2 separate regions of the Homo sapiens genome follow, and region 2 is reported to be linked to region 1. The links are microRNA targets in miRTarBase. Many come from high-throughput screens and were not tested one by one. Region 1 holds a microRNA gene; the other region holds the end of a gene's coding sequence.
What was found. Region 1 holds the annotated microRNA hsa-miR-34a-5p (UGGCAGUGUCUUAGCUGGUUGU, at 1,598-1,619, opposite strand). A microRNA usually pairs through its seed, bases 2 to 8, with sites in the 3' UTR of a target mRNA and lowers its output. Matches are read on the target gene's strand: a 7mer-m8 pairs with bases 2 to 8, a 7mer-A1 pairs with bases 2 to 7 and ends in A, and an 8mer does both.

Region 2: the mRNA of POP1 is a reported target of hsa-miR-34a-5p. The part of its 3' UTR that is shown has no 7-base or 8-base seed match.

Annotation. Positions count from the first base shown.
Region 1 is chr1:9,150,138-9,154,204 of GRCh38, forward strand. It overlaps MIR34A (microRNA 34a), which reads right to left and starts at 1,640; the gene lies at 1,531-1,640. MIR34AHG (MIR34A host gene) reads right to left here. Exons shown (of 2, transcript NR_132742.1): 2 at 1-1,698. RefSeq lists a silencer at 1,449-1,685.
Region 2 is chr8:98,157,615-98,161,669 of GRCh38, forward strand. It overlaps POP1 (POP1 ribonuclease P/MRP subunit), which reads left to right. Exons shown (of 16, transcript NM_001145860.2): 16 at 3-2,221. The coding sequence ends at 657. Among named protein-coding and RNA genes, the nearest start is that of NIPAL2-AS1, 17 kb to the right of the region's middle.

The DNA.
Region 1 (4,067 bases):
GAAGCAACCAGCTGCCTGGTTTCCTCTCCAGCATTGAGAGGGAGGGAGGGCTGGCTTAACTGGGGGACGGCCTTCTCATCTGGACTGTGTCAAGGCCAAGGTTAGGCTCCAAATTCCAGAAAACCTCTCTGCAGGGTCTTCTTTCAGAGTGGTGAGAATGGAAGCAGGCTCCCTTCCCCTCCAGCACTAGGAAGCCCCGCAATTGGTGAGGTGCAAAGAAAGATGGGCCCAGGCAGGGAGGCGGGAGCAGGGGAGGTGCCCAGGGCAGTGGCTGGAAGGGCAACGGGAGAAGCAGCAGAGGCTGGGGGTGGGGGTCGCAGCAGGTGCTGTCCCTGGCCTGTGTGAAAGGTACTAGAAGGCCCCATCCTTGGTGCCACATGGACCCCAGAGGCTTGTCTTAGTCCATGGGGTCCGAGGTGTAAGACACTTACGTTTGGCGTCACCTCTTAGGCTTGGATGAATTTCAGAAAGTGCTAGACTGGAGAACAGTGGAAAAAATCAGTGGAACAAGATCTGGAGCACTCACTGCTCAATGTCAATGTTAGAGAGCACAACGACACCAATGGGAGGAGGGTGAGGACCAGAGGCTGATTGCATGAGCTCTGTTGGAGTGCAGGACCCACTAACGGGTTATCTCAGGGTTCCTGGAGGCCACGGCTGTGCCTTGTGGTCCAAGACCTGGGGAAGCCACCACTGTGTCTTCCCTCTCCATCCTCCGGTGACTTTGGTCCAATTCCTGTTGCCATGGCAATCAGCCCAGCTGGCCTCACAGTTCACTGGCCTCAAAGTTGGCATCTGTAGGTGAAGCCAGTGGGACCCAGAGAACTTAATTCTTCTCAACTGAGCTGGCTTGGAGGAACTTTTCTCATCAGCCACTGGAGCAGAGAACGTCACCAGCGTCTCACTGACGTCAACATCCTGGGCCTGGCTCTAGCTGAAAAGGAAAATTCTCCCCAAGGCAGACACATCTCCCGAAGCCCACACAGGCACTTTCTATGATTGCACTGGAAATCTGTCTCCTGGGGACAGGGAGCGCGTACGCTCACAGTCAAGTCACAATGTTGAGCAGTCTCCAGGACTCCACGTTCATCTCTAAGAACAGGAGCCGGTGGTTGGGCGCAGATTCTTGAGCCAGATTGCTCGCGTTCAAAACCTGGTCCCTTTTTATTAATTGCATGCTTAGTTACATTTTCTGTTTGTACTTTTGTTTCCTTCTCTGCAAGACGGGGTTAATCACAGACACTTGTACATGATGTAATACACTTACAATACTTAGGACAGGCCTTCCTGCATAGTAAGTGCTCTGCAAACACTGGCTACTATTCTCCCTACGTGCAAACTTCTCCCAGCCAAAAGCCGCCCACACCAAGCCCCTGTGCCTTTTTCCTTCCGCACCCACGAGCAGGCTGCTCCTGGGGCCCTGGAGCTCACTTTCCCAGCCGCCCTCACCACCCACCGTGGCGCAGAAGAGCTTCCGAAGTCCTGGCGTCTCCCACTGGTCTGGGCATCTCTCGCTTCATCTTCCCTCTTGGGCCCCACAACGTGCAGCACTTCTAGGGCAGTATACTTGCTGATTGCTTCCTTACTATTGCTCACAACAACCAGCTAAGACACTGCCAAAGAAACACTCACAGCTGGCCGGTCCACGGCATCCGGAGGGGACTCGGGGGACAGGCCTGTCCTGCCTCTCCCCAGCACCTGTTGATAAGAAGGAAATGTGGGGAGGAAAGAAAGGATGCAGGAGGCCGAGGTGGGAGGATCGCTTCAGGCCAGGAGTTCAAGACCAGCCCAGGCAACTAGCAAGACTCCATCTCTACAAAAAAATTTTAAAAATTAGCCAGGCATGGTGACATGCGTGCCTGTAGTCCTAGCTACTGGAGAGGCCAGGGCAGGAGGATCGCTTGAGCCCAGGGGTTGAGGCTGCAGGGAGCTGTGATTGCGCCAGTCTGGGTGACAGGGTGAGACCCCGTCTCTAAAAATAAAAATTGGGTGATGGCTCACACCTGTAATCCCAGCAATTTTGGAGGCCAAGACAGGAGGATCACTTGAGGCGAGAAGTTCAAAACCAGCCTGGTTAACATAGCCAGACCACCACCTTCAGCAACTGTCTCTACAAAATGAAAATAAAAATAATGAAAGAGAGAGGATGGAGGAGAAGGCTGAGACCAGTAACAGATTCCAAAAGGACTAATTGACAAGGAGAAAAAGAGTCAGCACTTCCCTGGAAGAGAAAAAATTCGAAAAGGACAGTGGTTGAAAAGTCAGCATGTCTGCGTGAAAGGGAAGCAATGAAGTAGCGCCAACTCCTCCCCCGTCCCGGGCACCGTTTAGGGAGAGGATCAGAGTTCTGCCAGAGAATCAGAACCAGAAGGAGATATAGATTAAGTTTATTTCAAGGAATCGGCTTACGTGATTGTGGGGGCTGGCTAGGCAAGTCTGAAATCCAGAGGGCAGGCCAGCAGGCCGGAAGCTCCCCGGAGGAGCTGACACTGCAGTCCCCAGGCAGGATTTCTTCTTCTTCAGGGAAACCTCGGTTCTGCTCTTGAGGCCTTTCAACCGATTGCATGAGGCCCACCCACCTCGCAGAGGAGAACCTTTGACTTACAGCCAGTGATCATCAGTGCTGACCACATGTACAACGCACCTCACAGTAGCACCCAGGCAAGCGTTTGGTTGAATCATGGGTATCACAGCCTCGCTAAATTGACAAGGAAATTGCCCATCACAGGGTTTAAGATCTAGTGCTTTAAGATCTACTGACTTCTTGTTGTTTTGTTGTTGTTGTTTTTATAGAGATGGGTTCTTGCCATGTTGCCCAGGATGGTCTCAAACTCCTGGGCTCAAGTGATCCTTCCGCCTCGGCCTCCCAAAATACTGGGGTTATAGGCATGAACCACTATGCCAGGCCAAGATCTAGTGACTTTGGATACGGACCACCACGGAACAGTTCCTCTTCCATGTGGGTGTGGGGGCATGAAGGACTGTTTTCAGGAGGATCAAAGTCACCTCTACCCCAGCATGGGAAGTCCCAGAAACTTGAGTTCCAGGTAAGGTAGTGCAGAAAAAAGCAGGCTCATGAGCCAGTGCTGTCTCTCTCTGTGCAAGGGGGAAAGAGCCCCTCTGAGGCCTCCACACACAGTCAGCAGGACACAGGACACAGAGGTCAGCCTGTTGTGGCCACTGTGAAATGTCCCGTTGGAGTTGACAGGAGCCTGCTCTGACCTCAGTCCTCCTCCTCCAAACAGGTGACCCTGTAATGCTCTGGTTAAAAAGCAAGCCAGCTGGACTGTGTTATCTTTTAGTGTGGGAAAAATGCTCTTAGGCCGGGCGTGGTGGCTCACACCTGTAATCCCAGTACTTTGGGAGGCTGAGGTGGGTGGATCACTTGAGATCAGGAGTTCGAGATCAGCCTGGTCAACATGGTGAAACGCCATCTCTACTACCAAAAAAAAAAAAAAAATACAAAAATTAGCTAGGCATGGTGGCATGTGCCTGTAGTTCCAGGTACCTGGGAGGCTGAGGCAGGAGAGTTGCTTGAACCTGGGAGGCAGAGGTTGCAGATCACACCAGTGCACTCCAGCCTGGGTGACAGAGCGAGACTCTGTCTTAAAAAAAAAAAAAAAGCTCCTAATATGTCAGATTTTAACCCAAAGGTAAATTCCAGCAGGGCATGCTCATCAGCTAGAGCGGCAGGTCTCGGCTTCACTGTGTAAGCATCGGCTGGGGAGCTTTTGGTAAAATGCAGATTCCCAGGTTCAAACCTAGAAGTTCAGACTTGGCAGCTCTGGGATGATGCCAAAGGTACATCCTGCAGTTGCTGTGTCCCCAGGTCAGCGCAGAGACAAGCAAAAACTCAAAGCTTCCTCCCTCCCTCAACTCCCAGCCAAGACTGGACGGGGCAGGGGACCCCAGAATCCTGAAAACAGATAGCCACATGGAAACAGTGACCACAGCACACTTGAACTTTGTAAGCACAGCAGAAGCGTGTGGGATGGGCTGGCCCATCCAGAGATGGGGTGCAAGAGGCAGGAATCTGGCCTCATGGTGGCTCCTGGCTTCAGCCCCAG
Region 2 (4,055 bases), not on the chromosome of region 1:
AGGAGTAGAAAATTACTGAAGCAACTGTCAGCCTGGTGTGGGCCCAGTTCTGAGGATAGTCGGGGAGGCCGGCGAGCTCCCGGCAGAGGCCAGCAAGGATTGACCAGAGAGGCTTGCCTGTCCATCTTGGGCCACTTCCCCAGGGCCCTGGTTTGGGTCAGCCTGTCCCTGCTCAGCAAGGGCAGCCCCGAGCCTCACACCATGATCTGTGTCCCAGCCAAGGAGGACTTCCTCCAGCTCCATGAGGACTGGCATTACTGTGGGCCCCAGGAATCCAAACACAGTGACCCATTCAGGAGCAAGATCCTGAAACAGAAAGAGAAGAAGAAAAGGGAGAAGAGGCAGAAGCCAGGACGTGCCTCTTCTGATGGCCCGGCGGGGGAAGAGCCCGTGGCTGGGCAGGAAGCTCTGACTCTAGGGCTGTGGTCAGGCCCTCTGCCGCGTGTGACGTTGCACTGCTCCAGAACTCTCCTAGGCTTTGTGACTCAGGGAGATTTTTCCATGGCTGTTGGCTGTGGAGAAGCCCTGGGGTTTGTTAGCTTGACAGGCTTGCTGGATATGCTGTCCAGCCAGCCTGCAGCGCAGAGGGGCTTAGTGCTACTGAGGCCTCCCGCCTCTCTGCAGTATCGATTTGCGAGGATTGCTATTGAGGTGTGAATGCGTGCTTGTATCCCAGCAGGGCATAGATAATACGTTATTATTGTCTGCCAAGTTCTACATGTGGAGAATCTGCTTCTGCTTTAAAATATCATGTGAAACTCCCTGGAAACAAGAATAAAAAATTATGTATTATGCAGATGATGAAATGTTTACATCATTCCAGTAATGTCATTGATTTTCATCTTTCCCTGTCCTTGCTGTAATACTTTTAAATTATTTGGCCAAAAGCTTTGTATTATGATCTCTTGGTCTGTGTAGTTGTGGCTGAAAATAATGAGAAGCTCTACGAGTTATCATCCCCTTTTTTTGTTAGAAACAAAGGGCTTGTCAGGTCTATTTGAAAAACCTCATAGTCATGTGATAAGCAACAATAGATGTTTAATGATTTCACTGTTATAGCAGAAGACAAGAGAAGACGCTTGGCCTCTGTACATGAAATATGGGCTCCTGATGGACCTCATTCAATTCTGTACTGTGATTTCCATGCCGAACAACTCAAGCCTTAAAGAGAGAAATCATGGACAACTGATTTCTGCCTGTTTTCAGGCAGGCACAGTTTATGGCGTCAGTGCTAGGCTGGAATTAGAAAGTGGGGGTCTATGACGTGGACTTCCTGACTCTTTGATCTCTTTGTTGTTGACCAACACTTGATCCTACTAGTTACTTAATTTTTTTAAGTAAAAAATTATTATTATTTTGTTTCTGCAAAGATTTTCTCAAAGCCATAGAGGAGCATTTCTCAGAATATGTTCTATGATATGTGTCACCTAAAAAAGTAAGAGATTCCAAGGTCAGGTTGATATGGAAACTCTAGGTTAAATAAAGTTAAGCATTTCTTTATGAAAGAACTTCTGGAAACTTCCATGTGATAATGTGCATTGCGGATCTCTAGGAAGGAAATGATAGTGTATAGTATTTTCTAAATACTTGTGATTCCTAAAGTTCTCTTACAAGGAGCCCTTTGTAGGACCAGTGTTCTTAGTAGCGCGCTTTGGGCAGTGTGGCTGTGTAGTGCATAGCTACCTCTGCAAGGTGATAACTAAGCCGGCAAGCTGCCTTTCAACACTCATGCAGTCACGTTGTCCACCTGAGATTCTCAACAGGGTATAAAAGGAAGGTCTCATCTTGCCTCACAGGAAGAGTGGGCTCAGTGTGGCTTTTTTCCAACTATGGAGAAACTCAGTGCTCATCTACTTTAAGTTTCCACATATGGCTTGCTCATAGCCTTGGTCCTTACCTTTCCTGCCATAACTTTCTAGAAGAGCTTAATGGGATTTTTTTTCTAAAAAATGTAAATATGCAGTTAGGCATTATTTTATGTAAATGCATTGGGTTTTTACTGTAGCATTTGGCACTAAATGGCTTTGGGGGTGATGAGGTGGGGAAGGATACAGCAGGTGGTACAGTAGTCAGGAAGTACCTGCCACCAATGAGATGTCTGATGCTTTGCCTCTTACCATGCCTCTGAATGTCTTTGGATCCAACCCAGATGAGACTGAAAAAAAAAAAACAGTGTAACTAAGTGGCATCTGTAAACAGAATAAATGAAAATGTCACCTGATGTTCAGTTGTGAATATTTATATTTATTGGACCATTCCTTATTTGTTTTCTGGGCTCTCAGTCACCTCATTTGTGGCTGAGCTCACTCGATGACAGAAGTCTGAGTGTGCTGCGTGGTCACCTAACCTCATTCTGTACAGCCCTGCCTAGGGCCTGCTGCCCCGCCCTCATTATAGGGGACAGGGCACGTTTGCAGCCACTCTGCCTGGTGGGTGGTAGGTCAAAGAGCTGCGCACCAGAAAGATAGATTAGCATTTCCCAAAATGTATTCCTGGGAGTACTAGTCCCTGCAGCTGTTCCTGGAGAAAAGTATTTTATGGCTAAATAAATATGGGAAAAGCTATATATGGTATCCTCCTATTATGATTCACAATGAATACTTGCAGAGTCAAAGCTCTGCAAAGCTCTTTAGGAAAGAAATCTGTCTTTCAGACTCCCACACACGTACCTTTTTTGGTTTTTGCATACCTATTGTCCAGAGAACACTAGTTTCACAGAAGATACGTTGAAAAACTAACAGACTCTGCAGAGGCAGTAAAGAATCCATGTTCCTTATGAAAAAGACTGATAGGGGAATGGCTTACTTTCTGGCAGTTGAATTGATTAGCGTGTTGATCTTGATCCTTCCAAGTGCCTGCCATGCTGTACTAGAGCTACATAGCTACCAAATAAGTGCAATGTGGCCCTTGTCCTCTTGTTGAGGGAGCAATGCTTTTAGGGTTCTTGAAGCATCCTGACCAACATGGTGAAACCCTGTCTCTACCAAAAATACAAAATTAGCCAGGCATGGTGGCGCATGCCTGCCATCCCAGCTGCTTGAGAGGCTGAGGCAGGAGAATTGCTTGAACCCGGGAGGCGGAGGTTGCAATGAGCCGAGATCGCACCATTGCACTCCAGCCTGGGTAACAAGAGCAAAACTCCATTCCAAAAAAAAAAAAAGAAAAGAAAAGGCAGAGTTGTGAGCTGAACACTTACAGACCAGCTATGCACTTGAGTTCTGTAAGAAACAATGGATTCCTTTTGGTGTTTATGCTCTAGTAATATTGTTCATATCAGTCATCCATATTCATCATAAAACAATTAGAAAATGAAGATGAGCAACAATAACAAAATTTAAATCACCTGGATTTTCACCATGCAATATAACTAGTTACCTTCTGTTATGTATCCTAGACGTTAAGATGTATGTGGGTAGTTTTCTTTTAATAACATAAGCCGTTGCTTATATAAAGAGCTATACCATGCAAGTGCAGCAGAGTGCATGTTACCAGTTTTTTTGTTGGTGCTTGACTGGCAAGAGCTTTAAGGATAATACTCCTTTTTTTTTTTTTTTTTTTTAAATGGGAAGTTAGTATGTAACCACCCATCATGTACTAAGTGTAGCATTGCCGTCTTGGCGGCCACATGCCTTGCGTGAGTTCTTTCTTCCCAACCAGTGGGAGGTGAGGGGGGCGGTTGACAAGCTATATGGACTCCCTCATAGTCTTAACTGGCCTACTCGTAGCCAGCCGATCTGAGGCCTGGGGAGCACAGAGATAGGTCCAGGATTGAGCTGTTTAGCAGAGAATACATAGCCTGTAGCAACTGTGGGCCACTCAAGCATCAACCCCAGTTTCACAGCGGTTCTGGTTATTATAGGCCTCCTGAGGACACAGAGGAATACAGGCACTGCCTTTTCTTTGGCAACAGCAGCTTCCAGTCTTGGCACCCTTCCCTTCCCCTCCCCTTCCCCTCTCCTTTCCTTTCCTCCCCTTCCCCTCTCCTCCCCTCCCCTCCCCTCCTCTCCCCTCCTTTCCCCTCCTCTCCCCTCCTCTCCCCTCCTCTCCCCTCCTCT